Linked DNA regions of Homo sapiens: region 1 is linked to region 2. The links come from fine-mapping of genetic effects on gene expression. A gene starts in region 2. The other region holds a variant in brackets. All regions are shown on one strand. Distances are between the middles of the regions.

What was found. PIP is the estimated chance that this variant, and not a neighbour inherited with it, causes the effect.
Region 1: its variant is the best candidate, but not a certain one, in a credible set for the expression of ZNF792 in breast (GTEx, PIP 0.53).

What each region holds. Positions count from the first base shown.
Region 1 is chr19:34,941,195-34,945,588 of GRCh38, reverse strand. It overlaps ZNF30 (zinc finger protein 30), which reads right to left. Exons shown (of 5, transcript NM_194325.3): 5 at 421-2,366. The coding sequence ends at 751. Among named protein-coding and RNA genes, the nearest start is that of ZNF30, 16 kb to the right of the region's middle. The variant T/C (reference allele first, on the strand shown) is at 2,255.
Region 2 is chr19:34,961,964-34,966,357 of GRCh38, reverse strand. It overlaps ZNF792 (zinc finger protein 792), which reads left to right and starts at 2,129. Exons shown (of 4, transcript NM_175872.5): 1 at 2,129-2,728. The coding sequence starts at 2,696. LOC124904699 (a long non-coding RNA gene) reads right to left here and starts at 2,932. Exons shown (of 2, transcript XR_007067236.1): 1 at 2,685-2,932. RefSeq lists silencers at 2,368-2,627, 2,738-2,787.

The DNA of each region.
Region 1 (4,394 bases), 21 kb after region 2:
AGGTTTATGCCTTTCTCCTGTCTCAGCCTCCTGAGTAGCTGGGACTACAGGTGCCCGCCACCACACCCAGCTATTTTTTTTTGTATTTTTAGTGGAGATGGGGGTTTCACCGTGTTAGCCAGGATGGTCTTGATCTCCTGACCTCGTGATCCGCCTGCCTCAGCCTCCCAAAGTGCTGGGATTACAGGCTTCAGCCACCAAGCCTGGCTTTTTTTTTTTTTTTTTAATAAGAATGTAGGTTCTATTATCACCATTTTAAAACAATGCTGTAAGGTGATAAGTGTAGTGCCTAATATCTAACTGGCTGCAAGGCAGTGGAATAACAATGATGATAGTTAACGTGAGTGCCATGGCTAAAGGCTTTCATTACATTGTTAACTGGTTTTAAAAAATAATGAATTATTTGAAGTTCAGCAGTGGTTTAGGAGGTCCAAGGTTTTTTATTCACTTGTTCATACAATCACATTAGAATAAATGCATCATATAAAAGTTCATGCTGTCAGTGCTGTAACCATTAAGTAATAACGTTTCCCACTTTTTCTGAATGGTCCACCAGTATAAATATTGGTATTACAAACCTATAAATGACAAAGGAATATTCTTATGTTTTCTGAGTTATATTATGAATTATAAGATGAGAATAGACCTGCCAATATTCTTCACATTTGAAAGTTTCCTACCAGCATAAATTCCCCGATGTTCAACAATGTTTGAGCCACACACGAAGCACTTCCCACACTCCTCAGACTCTTAGGGTATAACACTCATATGTTTTCTCAGATGCACTTTAAGGGCTGAACTGTATCTAAAGGTCTTCCCACATTTTTTGCATTTAAAGGGTTTCTCACCAGTGTGTACCCGCTGATGTTCAGTAAGGAATGAATTAAGTCTAAAGGCCTTCCCGCATTCCTTACATTCAAAAGGTTTCTCACCAGTGTGAACACTCTGATGTCCAATAAGTTGTCCATAAACAGTAAAGGCTTTCCCACATTTGTTACATTCATAGGGTTTCTCCCCAGTATGAATTCTTTGATGCTGAACAAGGTATGAGCCAGAACTGAAGGCCTTGCCACACTCCTTACACTCATAGGGCTTCTTACCAGTATGGATTCTGCTATGTTGTACAAGGTACGAGGCTCGACTAAAAGTCTTTCCACATTCCTTACATTCATAGGGCTTTACATCAGTATGAATTTTCCGATGCTGTGTGAGATGTACGTGCACTCTGAAGGCCTTGCCACATTCCTTACACTCATAGGGTTTCTCTCCAGTATGAACCCTTTGATGTACGGTAAGCTGATGGCGACTAATAAAGGCTTTGCCACATTCCTTACATTCATAGGGTTTCTCCCCAGTATGGATCCTCTGATGCTGAACAAGGTATGAGCCAGTACTAAAGGCCTTGCCACACTCCTTACATTCATAGGGCTTCTCGCCAGTGTGAAGTCTTCCATGTTGAACAAGATATGAGGCACGACTGAAGGTTCTCCCGCATTCCTTGCATCCGTAGGGCTTTATCTCTGCATGAATTCGCTGATGTGCATGAAGGAAGGAACTAAGTCTAAAGGCCTTTCCACATTCCTTACATTCAAAAGGTTTCTCACCAGTATGAATACTCTGATGTCGAGTAAGCTGTCCATACACAGTGAAGGACTTCCCACACTCCTTACATTCATAGGGTTTCTCGCCAGTATGAATTCTCTGATGCTTAGCAAGGGGTGAGCTAGTGCTAAAGGCCTTCCCACATTCTTTGCATTCGTAAGGTTTTTCACTGGTATGAATTCGCTGATGTTGAACCAGGTATGAAAAGGTACTGAAGGCCTTCCCACACTCCTCACACCCAAAGGGTTTTTCACCAGTGTGAGTACTCTGATGCCGGGTAAGCTTTCCATATACTAGAAAAGCTTTCCCACATTCCCCGCACTCATATGGTTTCTTCCCAGTATGAATACTCTTATGTACTGTAAGTTGATAGCTACCACTAATAGTCTTTCCACATTGCTTACATTTGAGTGGCTTCTCACCAGTGTGAATTCTCCCATGCTTAACAAAGGCTGAGCCACTGATAAAGGCCTTCCCACATTTTTCATATTTATAGGGTTTCTCACCAACATGCAATCTCTGATGTATGGTGAGTTGATGTCCATTACTAAAGTTCTTCCCACATTCTTTACATCTGTTGGGTTTTTCACTACTATGTATTCTTTCATGTTGAACAGGCTTTGAGTCTTGACAAAGGGTCTTTCCATATTCC[T/C]GACATTCACGTGGTTTCTGTCTACTTATTTTCTGATGTAGAGCAAAAGATGGACAGTTTTCAGAGGTGGGCATTTCTTTACAGCCGATTGTATCATCTTCCAACTGCAAATCTGAAAGAAAATTTTAAAAATATCTTATTTTTCTATTTGAAAAAAAATTCTAGGGAAGAAAAGAGAAAAACTGAAAATAACACCAACTAGAAATAAATAGCTCAGTAATATTAAAACACCATTATGAAATTCAAAAAAAAAAAAAGGAATGCAGAGATTAACAAGTGTTTATGTAAAATAGTAAGGTTGGTGATTAGTGAAACAGTTTTCATTTAGGTGTGGATAATAATCTTTGAAGAGCCTGTTAAAAAATGGATGTTCAAGCAGCATCCCGCCCCTCTGAATCAGACATAGGGGAAGTTCCTGGACATCAATACTGTCAACCTTTCTAACAAATGTTTCTGATGCAGATGAAATTTTTATAATCCATATTTTATTGTTCCTTCTAGGGGTTTCTTGTGGCGCTTACATTAAAATCCATGTATCTTTCCACAGATAATATTGTCCCTGCTCACCTCTCAGACCTCATATCAAGACACAACTCCCTCTGTCCCATACTGACCTAATTTCCCCCTTTTAGCACCTTGACGTTCTTACAAATTTTCTCACCTTTTGGTTCCATGTGCAGGTGGCATCATCGCCTAAAAATCTTCTGGCATGTTTTGTTTGTAGACTGGAGCTTTCTTATCCTATCCATGTTTAAAATAAAATGTCACTTTATCAGGAATATGGTAAACTGCTAACTTTGTCTAAGGACGTCCATGTCTTTACTTTCTAGCACTTCATTCTTTGGTTTCCTACTGGTTTTCTTTTTCTTTTTTTCTTTTCTTTTTTTTTTTGGATAGGATCTCACTCTTGCCCCGGCTGGAGTGCAGTGGCACAACCACAGCTCAATGCAGCCTCAACCTCCCAGGCTCAGGTGATTCCCTCCCACCGCAGCCTCCTGGATAGCTGGGACTACAGGTGTGTGCCACCATGTCCAGCTAATTTTTTTGTAATTTTTATAGAGATGGGGTCTTGCCACATTGCCCAGGCTGGTCTCCAATTCCTAGGCTCAAGTCGTCCTCCCACTTCACCCTCCCAAAGTGCTGGGATTACAGGTGTGAGCCAATGAGTCCGGCCTTCTATACAAAAGAAATAATCGTAATAAAATATCTCCATACAAAGAATGATATTTTATAATTCCAATGAGAATTATCATTTGTTGTTAAAACCATGACAAGATATACTGCTAAACTGAATAAACGTGTACTTCTTGAGAATAAACTAAGATCACACAGATTATTGTTTAGTCACAAGGAGAAACATACTCAATAATGTGGGGTTGGACCATTATCACTGTAATCTAGTAAACAGTCTTTTAATGAGGAGCACGGCCAGACATTAGATATCTGCTGATAAGATACACATTGCCTCCTTTGATATATTGAGACAAAACTGTTTACCACCTTTTAAAATATTGCCATATTATTTGATAAGCCCATAGGACGAGATCACTGGGGTGGCCACTAAAGCACTGGGTTTGTACACAAAAACCAACTGCAAAACTGGATTAGATATGTTAACTCACTGAACTCAATACCTGCCTTTAGGATGGTTCCTGTTATCTCCTAGGATCACTGTGGCCCATTCATCCCCCTTGTCAGAAAAAGAGACCTTTAGATAACTTAATTCAAAGAGGAGAGAAACTGGACCTGAGTTTGTGTCAAAAAACTTCAGTCAGGCTGGGTGCAGTGGCTCACGCCTGTAATCCCAGCACTTTGGGAAACCAGTGGGCAGATCATGAAGTCAGGAGTTCAAGACCAGCCTGGCCAACATGGCAAAACCCTGTCTCTACTAAAAATACAAAAATTAGCTGGGCATGGTGGCGGGCACTTGTAATCCCAGCTACTTGGGAGGCTGAGGCAGGAGAATCACTTGAACCTGGGAGGCAGAGGCTGCAGTAAGCCAAGATCGCGCCATTGCACTCCAGCCTGGGCAACAGAGTGAGACTCCATCTCAAAACAAAACAAAACAAAACTTCAGTCACCACTGAAACAGAACTTTGGACTGTTTCCTTCTACCTCCAAGCCTTTTAATGTCACGCTA
Region 2 (4,394 bases):
GCCTGCCAAAGTGCTGGGATTACAGGGGTGAACCACCATGCCCGGCCTAGAGGGAAAGGGCTGTTATCTTTGCTTCAAAGTTAAACTGTAAACTGAGTTTCTCCCAAAGTTAGTTAGGCCTATGCTCAGGAACGAACAAGGACAGCTTGGAGGTTAGAAGCAAGATGGAGTTGGTTAGGTCAGATCTCTCACTGTCATAATTTTCTCAGTTATAATTTTTACAAAGGTGGTTTCACCATATGACATGTAGTATCGGGGGAACCCACCCCCGATAATTCAATGTGGGTTCTTTTCTATTTTCCCTAAGTGTCGGCTGGTCTGAGAAATAAAGGGAAAGAGTACAAAAGAGATAAATTTTAAAGCTGGGTGTCTGGGGGAGACATCACATGTCAGCAGGTTCCGTGATGCCCCCGAGCCATAAAACCAGCAAGTTTTTATTGGCAATTTTCAAAGGGGAGGGAGTGTACGAATAGGGTGTGGGTCACAGAGATCACATGCTTTAAGGGCAACAAAAGATCACAAGGCAGAAGGTCAGGGCGAGATCACAAGGTCAGGGCAAAACTAGAATCACTCATGAGCTTCCATGTCCTGCTGTGCACGCATTGTCATTTATAAACATCTTAACAGGGTTCAAGAGCAGAGAACTGGTCTGACTAGAGTTCGCCAGGCTGGAATTTCCTAATCCTAGCAAGCCTGGGGGCGCTGCAGGAGACTAGGGTGTGTTTCATCCCTATCTACATGTGCATAAGGCAGACACTCCCAGGGCAGCCATTTTAGAGGCACTGCCCTGGGAATGCATTATTTTCCCAGGGCTGTTAATTATTAATATTCCTTACTGGGGAAAGAATTCAGCGATATTTCTCTTACCCGTTTTTGGTAATAGGAGAAATATGGCTCTGTCCTGCCCGTCCCACAGGCAGCCAGACTTTAAGGTTATCTCCCTTGTTCCCTGAAAATCGCTGTTATCCTGTTCTTAAGGTGCCCAGATTTCATATTGTTCAAACACACATGCCCTACAAACAATCTGTGCAGTTAACGCAATCATCACAGGGTCCTGAGATGACATACATCCTCAGCTTACGAAGATGACAGGATTAAGAGATTAAAGTAAAGTCAGGCATAGGAAATCACAAGAGTATTGATTGGGGAAGCGATACATGTCCATGAAATCTTCACAATTTATGTTCAGAGATTGCAGTAAAGACAGGCATAAGAAATTATAAAAGTATTAATTTGGGGAACTAATAAATGTCCATGAAATCTTCACAATTAATGTTCTTCTGTCACGGCTTCAGCAGGTCCCTCCGTTCGGGGTCCCTGACTTCCTGCAACAATGTAGTGTTATTTTTCCCATTTTATTTACTGGATTTCAATGAGAGTCCCTGCTGTAAAGTTGGAGCCAGCATTGGAGTCCCCAGAGGGCTTGTTAAAACAGAGAAGGAGGCCTGGCACCATGGCTCACTCCTGCAATTCCCAACACTTTGGGAGGCCGAGGTGAGAGGATCACTTGAGCTCAGGAGTTTGAGACCAGCCTAGGCATCACAGGGAGATCCAGTCTCTACAAAAAATTTTAAAATTAGCTGTGTATGATGGTGCACGCCTGTATCCCATCTACCTGGTAGGCTGAGGCAGGAGGATAGCTTGAGCCCGAGATGGAGGCTGCAGTGAGCTATGATCAGGCCACTGCACTCCAGCCTGGACAACAGAACGAGACCCATCCCCCCCGCCCCCCCCGCAAAAAGTAGAGAAGGCTGAATCCCATCCCCAGAATTTCTGAGTCCTTAGATTTAAGTTGTTGCCCCAGAACCTGCATTTTCAGCCAGTCCCCAGGTGATGCTGATGTTGCTGGTTTGAGAAGCCCTGAATCAGAGCGACATTTAATATTACAACGCAAAGACCCCGCCCATTGGGTACTATCCCCATTTTCCAGTGTGAATTTAGGTCCCTTAGGGGTGAAGCGGCTGGCCGATGCCCACACGCGCAGGAAGAGCACTGGGGCTCTCCTCCTGGACCTCGGAGGGTGGGCGGGGTTTAGCGCGGGCGGCTGCAGGCTCGGGAGCGGCCCCTTTAAGGGGAAGGCCCGAGGGCTGCAGGCGGCGGCGGTGGAGACCCGACGAGATCCGCTCTCCTTCCCGCCCTGGACCCTCAGCCTGACGAGAGGCTGGGCAGAAACTCGCGATCCCCAGGCCCTGCCTGTGCACCAGCGGCTGGCGCCAGGCCAATGACAGTACGGGAGAGGGCAACTCTCCCGGCCGCCACGGTGGGGGCCGGAACTTCCTGCACTGCAGCCTCGCAGGTCATTTCCCGGCGGGGAGGCTGAGTCCCCAGGAGCTGGGGACCCCGAGTTGGGGGCGGGGCGGCTGGGGCTACGCCCGTGAAGCTGCCCCGCCGGCTTTCCCGGACCGCGAGGGGGACAGTGAGGCCGGGACCCCCTCCGCGCCTTTGCACCAGCCGTGACCCCTTGCAACGGGGGTACCCAGCGGAGCTGCGCGCTCTCGGCGCCCCCGGAGCCTGCGCCCCGGGCCCCTTGCGCATTTTGCACGGGGGAGACTGAGGCTAGGAGTGCGACCCTCAGCCCGGGGTCACACCTCGTCTGGGGCACGGCCAGGTGGGTGGTAGCCTCAGCCTGCGAGACCCCCTACCCCCGCCCCGTGGTTTCCCGCACCGTGGGGCCCTGCTCTGACCACAGACTCCGATGGCAGCGGCGGCGCTGCGGGACCCCGCGCAGGTGAGTGCTTGGACGTTAGGCCCTTCGCTGTCGGCCCCCCACGCTTCTGTTCTCGGTGTTGAGACGCAAAAGATGGCTTTGTTCTAGGACTTTTCGCCTTTCCCATTTCCTTGCTTTTGAGTCAGGGGACCCTGGAAGGGAGTTGCTCCCAGCTAGGATCCTGAATCAGGGCAGGGTTTATATAAAGTGGCTTCCGTTGCTGAAATGTAATGGGATGGAGGGAGAAAGGGCTTTGTAGGCACAGGAACCAGCGTGCGCAAAAGCTTGGGGGTGGGGTGGGGCACGGTGTGGAGACTGAGTTGGGAGTGTTCAAGGAACCCCACCCAGGTCAGTGTTATTAATATTATGTCTGCTGGAACCAGAGAGCAGGTGGGCTGAAGACAGCTCAGAACGGCAGAGCTGGGCCTCTGTTCTGAGGGTGTTGGGAGCCATGGAAGGTTTAGGGCAGAGGAGGAAGATGCTGTGACTCAGGTCTTAACAGGCTCCCTGTGGATGCACAGTGGAGAACTGAATATGGAGTGAGCCGCAAGCAGGGATGCCAAGGAGTAGCCTAATGGAATAGCCCAGGCCAGTGCTGCGGCTGGCCGGACCAGAGTGAGGACTGGAGGTAGAGGAAGTGATTGGGAACTTGATGTCTTTTAAGTCAAGCTGACCAAATTTTCCGATGTGGAGGGTGAGAAAGAGGAGGGAAGAATCCATGGTTTTTGGTTTGATGAATCCAGCTTTATGAACTGAGAAGTTGGTTTTAGGAGGAATTTTCCATGGAAGCAGTAGAAGTTAGGTTTTGGCCAAGTTGAGCCTGTGATGTCCCAGAGACCCCCAAATGGAGTTGAAGAGTGGGCCGCTGAACACACAGTTCGGGTGTTCTGAGGGAGTTGTTAAGGTAATGAGAGACTGGATATTCATTCGAACAATGGCCAGATCATGTATACAAATAGAACTCTGCCCCAGAACCTGCCCAGGAAACCAACCCCCTTATCTACAATAAACAACCCATACAGCAGGAAGCCAGCCTGCTGTCTGTCAGACCCACAGGAAGCCAGATTGCTATCTGGACTGACAATCCAGGAAGTAAAAACAATAACTTCTGTAATGAGCAGTCCCAAATGGCCAGGGTTTGATTAATAACAGACAGCTTTCCTCATTTTTGCTCCTGCTTCTGATTTAAGAACAACCAGAGAAAGGCAGATACGCACCCTAACCAATCACATAGGATGCCCACTTCTAGTTCACCCACCTACGAACAGGAGCCTCCAACCAGGGCACGCCTGAAGCCTTCCTTTTCTTTTGCTATAAAACTCTCCCACTCCCGGCTTGCATTGAGTCTCTCTTGCTATAGTGAGCTTTGAGTAAGTAGCCTTGGCTTTTCTCATTTCATTGGTCTTTGTTTATTTCAACAGTTAGAAACATCCAAAATGTGACATCTGGTGTGTGGACGGGAGTGTAGCTGTGTGTGAGATTTAGGAGGTGAAACTTCAGGTCATGGTGACAATGATGTTAAAAAAAAGAGGAAGGTGGGGCTGGAAAACTGAGAGCAGGGTTCTTGCTTGGGGACTGTGGCTTGTTTGGCATCATAAAGACAGGTGAGGAACAGTAGTGGTCATGGTGGTGATGGAGGGGCTATGTGGGTGTATCAGAGGGTCTGGCAGGTGGCCAGATCATCCCA